2 separate regions of the Homo sapiens genome follow, and region 1 is linked to region 2. The links come from fine-mapping of genetic effects on gene expression. A gene starts in region 2. The other region holds a variant in brackets. All regions are shown on one strand. Distances are from middle to middle.

Region 1 (2,929 bases), 690 kb before region 2:
TTTGAGGAAGGAGATATAAACACCTAGTGCATAGTCTGCTCTGTAGAAGCAGAAGCTTCATTGTCATAGTATCATTTATATTAGAAGCAGAGTACTTTACTGAATGGAAATATCATCATAAATCTATATAGCTACATATTTATCATATTACATCTGATCTATATCAACCCTCTATTAGTGGATATTTAGGTTATTTATGATGCCTTAAATCATTTTTAATTTTTTTCATTAATTTTTTTATGTTTTTGATTTTAAAATCTCTTTTCTCTAGGTGCACACAAAAAATCTACAAACAAAATACTACTATAACTCAAATTTATGTTGTATATTAGACAAAGATTCCATTTTTTTCTGAATGTGATAATCATTTGCAGATCAATTAGGAGAGACTGACTCTTTTGAGGGCCAAATAAGAAAGAAATTCAACATAAAGAGCTTTTGACAGCCAATCTGGAGAGGAATAAATACTCAGAGATAGGGCTTCATTTTCCAGTACAATGGATACTGAACTGAAAGAGTAGAATGGTATAACTGTTGGTATTGACAGGCGTGCCTGCTAAAAGCAGCCAACATTTTCCCCAGCATTAGGTAGTCATCCTCAAGAGCCATTGAAATGGGAGCAAACAGAGACATTCTCTATTAGGAAGAGTCAATACCAAAGGTCATTGAAAGGCATTTTTGGCTGCCTCTTAGGCATAAGAAATATTTAAGAATTCATAGATGGATAAAAAATGTCTTAAACATGTTCCAAATCAATTACCCTAAGCAGTCTAACATTGGTCCAATTTTTGAAGTTTTTCATCATTGATTTACACAACAGAAAGATGAGCCTAAAAGTATATGTTGTTCTATGCTAAAGTCATGTTAGTGCAATTATTTGGCTGCTAAATCTTTATTAATGCTGTGCCATTCAGGGCCTAGATTTTTGAAATATAGCACCAAGGCCTATAGAAGGGCCTCTCAATGGAATGCAGAGCATTGGTTCTCCAGAGAGAACCTATTTCTTTAAATGTTCCACTGCTCCAGATTAATCAGAAGTGTGGATGTTCTGAACTTCATATTGTAGCTGAGCTTTTTCTCCTAGTAGGAGCTGTACATAATGTGTTCAAGGATAAGAAGTGACCAAGATTTATTCCTTTGTGTCACAGATATCCAAAGCTGAAATGTGGTGTATAAAAAAGCTTTCATTGAAAGGTGGAAATTACTATAACTCTAAATTAATAATGAAAATTATTGAAAATGAGCACAGTTCCAACTTAAAAATTTTTTTTCTCTTCAACATTATTTATGGCTACTGTTCTCTTTGTGATTATGCTTATCTGTTAAGAAGTAACTTTTGGAGTCTAGTGTTTTATTCTTGAACGAGTGCAGGACTTCCTCAAAATGCTCTAATTGCAAGCACACTCAGGAATGGAAAGATCTGTAGGCATACTCCAAGGCATCTGCATC[C/T]GGCTAGGAGTCAAAAGCTCTTGGCTTAGCTTCCTTCTATCTCATCTGTAAAATTGGATTATTAATGTTACGTCCGACTAACTGAAAGATTGTGAAGAATAAATAGAACTATGGGTATAAACATAGTATGTAAAAGCAAGATATTAATATTTTTACACATCCTTGGAAATGTATGGGATCTCATTTTGAAAAAGAGGAAGGAAATGTCTTTTTGTCCTCTCCTCCCTTGCTAGGTTATTGGATATATTAGTCGGCTTGGGCCGCCATAACAAAATACCGTAGACTGGGCGGTTTAAAAAACAGAAATTTATTTTCTCACAGTTCTGGATGCCAGAAGTCCAAGATCAAGTTTCCAGCCAATTCAGTTTCTGGTGAGGACACTCTTCCTGCCTTGCAGATGGCCATGTTTTTGCTGTGTCCTCACATGGCCTTTCCTCAGTGTGTGCACATGGAGAAGGAAAGAGAGTGAGCTCTGTGTCTTTTCCTGTAAGGACACTAATCAGATCAGAGCCCTATACTCATTTAACCTTGATTAGTTTCATACTCCAGTTACAGCCACCCCTAGGGTTAGGGCTTCAACACATGAATTTTGGTGGAAAGGGGGTACACGACCATTCAGTCCATAACATCAGGGAAGATTAAGTTGTCTGGCACTACAGAGTCCTCAGCTGTAGGCTCATAAATAGCAGTGCCTCAAATGACGCATCAACACAGAAAAAAGGACTGAGTGCTAAAGATTTGTTTTCCAGAACTTCTCAAGTAGCTTTTCCATGAAGCCTCTTCCGTTCTTGGTCAGTACTTGAAGAGAACAAAATATTTAGTTTTTGAGATGCCACTATTAATTCTTTTCATACAATTTCTAACGTTGTCAAAACATTTTGAGCTTTATTGGTCTCCTGAGGTGGTGGTGTGTCCCTGCATATAGGAGAAAACAGTGATTCTGGAAGTACAGATTATTCATAAATCAAGAGGTGCTCACTTTGGACAAGTCTGCCAACAGGTACCAGGGTCTGTATGCCTGGCTTAAATTTGATGGGCTAAAATGTCTTCTGTTCATGTTATTGGCTAAAACGACTGATGTTTCAATAACCACTCCATCATGTGAGCCTCAAATGACAGAGCCATATTTTCCTGGAAAGACTATGCAACAATCTTTAAATAATTATATATACATATATATATAATTATAGGTGAAGACTATAAGGGCTAACAATTTACTCAGATTGACTAGACATTTCTAGGGGGACAGTCAAAATTAGAAGGCCAATCTCTAATATTTCCCTAATGGAAAATATTAGAAAATGATTATATAGAGACAGTTTTTACTGTGATGTGTCATTTATTCTCCTGAGCATTTTTCTTTATGTTTTTGAAACAGAATGTTAAATGAGACTCTGTCTTGATTTTGGCTAAGGCCTCAAAGGCTGAGAACAAAACAGTATTTCCCAGGCATCTCCCTATTCCAAAGTGAGGTGCTAAC
Region 2 (2,929 bases):
TCCTGCAGGTCCCTGGGTATTAATGCATGCATACCAACAAGATAAACTCCAAATGTCTAAATGTTTGGACACCACCCATAAATGATGAAAATTTATAAGAACTGTCTTACATATATTCTTGAAGTCTTTCAAAAAACAGAGGTAATATGGCACAGTGTTATAAAAACACTTTCATTCCCATGAGGCTACTGTTCTGGTCACCACCAGTTCAAAGGCCACTGCATCATCTGTCTACAGATGGTCGTGGCTTTGTGCTAGAGGTATCTTCTCTTTTGATTACATCTTGAGAATAGAGTAGGTAATAATCCGGGCTAGGATAGTGGGGACAAACTGATTCTATTGACAAGGTTGAGTCTCTCTCATGCTCACACAACAACTCCAATAATGTTCAAAGCATACATTCTCTTGCCCACCAACCATCTACAATTGGCAAACTCAGAAAGAAAATGTTCAGTTGTTTCAATGAAAAGGGAACTTATTTCTCATTTAGGCTCTAGCTGTGTTTAATATGAAGACCTGTCTTCACTCTACATGACTGGAACTCCAACCTTTAGTGCAATGTATCTTGGACTTGAGGAGAAAACATGAAAGTCAATGCAAAACATCTCTGTCATTTAGTCTTCCACTCACATTTTCAAGTACTACTAGTACTAATAACCCTGTTTGCTTACATGATTCTAACTGGGTACATTTCACTTCAACTTTTAGCTCAGCATTGTAATTTTAGCTCTTCTTCGTGGATCAGACCACATAACAACTCCGAATCATGTTTTTATTATGACAAAAGTTTGTGGATAAAATTCACTTTGCTAAATGACATTAATTTAACACGATGTATTGAATATCTGCTATGTGCCCATTACAGAACTAGGTTCAAGGCAAAGGCCAACAGAAAATAAGCATACTTAGTTTCCAACATCAAATGTGTGTTTTTCCTCTACATTTGCATCCAAAGAAAATACTCTTATGCACATCAGGTTTAATCTCTTAGCTTGACTTACGCTAAATTTATATTATATAGAGACTAAAATATGCTTTCAAAATTTTCAATTTCTATTCTTGTCTGTTTTGTAATCTCCCAAGAACATCTGGAAGCTGGGGAAAACATCAGAGCAAGTGAAGAATGTTCAAATATACAGGGACCATCCAGAGACATGTGGCCTGCACGTTGATGAGCAATGTGAACTGAATTACTGTTGTATCTGGAGGAATTCCATAAAAGAGAGTAATCAGTCTATTTGGATCCCAACTGCCTTTTCCTGTCCCCAAAGGGCGGGAACTAGTGTGGGTGGAAAAACCCAATGCATCCCAAGGCAGTCCTGCCTTCTAAAGCGCCCGCCAGGACAGGCTCCTGGTGGGTTGTAAGGAGAACGGCAGGAAGAAGTGCTCCCAGGAAGCTGCCTAGCCACCGCCACCACCACAGGGTTCCATCCAACTGGTAGGAAACATGCCCTCTTGGCAAGACATATCCTAAAGAGACTGATTCTCCTTCTGTCTCTCCTGTTTTCTCCACTTCTAGCAGAACAATGTTCCCAGTGAGAATCATGAAAAGATAGTGATGTCTTTTTCTCCATAAGTTTGTTTATTTCCTTTAGCATGAATCCAAGCCCAGTTTAATTCTCTAAAACCACAGCTGGTCAACATCCCTCATAAAATTAAATAATAAACAGCTATATGAAGTGCATACTGCATGACTGTCACACATCTACAAGAACTTTTCAAACTTTCTTGGCCACTTTGTGGTGTGTGAAATATCTATAAGCAACAGATAGTGTAATATTTTCTGAACTCAATCTGAAGTTTTCTGTTATTTGATTGATGATTTTAGACCATTCATATCTTACATGAAAAGAGATGCACATGCCTTGCCATTTCATCTGATTTTAGGTTTACTATTCCTTATTCTTTATTGTTATTTCCTCTTTTCTATTTTCTTACGTTGGCTGACTTGGTCACATTTTTTTCATTCCCTTGCCTTCATCACCCCTCCACCTCCATCTCTACCTCCACTAATTGGAAACTTAAGCTGTGTTTATTAATCTTGCTGATAATTGGATCTGTATTGCTCTATTAATGTGTCTAAATTAAAATAATATAATTATGCCCTGCCACCTGAATATTTTGCTTTATCACTCCCTTCCCTGCCATGCTCCCTTCTAAGCCCACAGTTTTGCTGAACTAGGAATTGTCCTGAGAACTTTCTTCCACAATGGCTCAGCAGATCTCCATTTTAAACCGGCAGTCTGCAAACTCAGCCCTGAGGACACAGCCAGCCCGCTTCCAGGCATCTCCTGCGAGCTGCTCCCAGGAAAGAACAGCAAAGCAACCTGGTCCAGTGTAGACATGCTGTTCAAATCATCTGTGGTTGAATGACTATTTTTTTAATTTAATCTTTTGCAGACATTTTTGGTAAAACATTATATAAATGAATTACTAGAAAAAAAGAAATACAAAAGTAAAAACATATGAAATATAAGCCCCAATCTTTTGTTATTAGATTCAATACACATAGAAATAAATTTTAATACATACAATCAAAACAAACAGCATGGGATAAAATAAAAGAATCCCAAAACCATATGAATGATTCATTGAAAGTATGTTTACAGATTAATATAGAAAATGCTTATTATACTAGCCGCTTTTACTCATTGTGCAATGAAAACAAAAAGTTATGAAAGAAATAATGGTCTCTGTGGTAAGTACTGTGTAGATACTTTGTACAAACACTATACATATCAACATTTAAGGTTTCTAATGTTACAAAGGAACTTGTTTCTTGCTTATTAACTTATCTAAATCAAATTGAATTGGCAACAATACTGCTTACAGGGCATGACAGGTATCTAGTTTCTATGTTTTCTTTTAATAAAACTGATAGTAGAGAAACAAGTCTTAACCAGAGGTATGTTGGCAAGGACAGAATAAG

Alleles and levels. Positions count from the first base shown, and alleles are read on the strand shown. Sizes are in standard deviations (SD) of each study's normalised expression.
For the expression in thyroid of the gene that starts at base 1,330 in region 2, T is the high allele of the variant in region 1 and C is the other (small effect, 0.28 SD a copy in GTEx).

What was found.
Region 1: its variant is fine-mapped to the expression of LINC00517 in thyroid (GTEx, PIP above 0.99).

What each region holds. Positions count from the first base shown.
Region 1 is chr14:38,592,169-38,595,097 of GRCh38, reverse strand. No RefSeq gene overlaps it. Among named protein-coding and RNA genes, the nearest start is that of LINC00639, 320 kb to the left of the region's middle. The variant C/T (reference allele first, on the strand shown) is at 1,450.
Region 2 is chr14:37,900,525-37,903,453 of GRCh38, reverse strand. LINC00517 (long intergenic non-protein coding RNA 517) reads left to right here and starts at 1,330. Exons shown (of 2, transcript NR_135286.1): 1 at 1,330-1,438.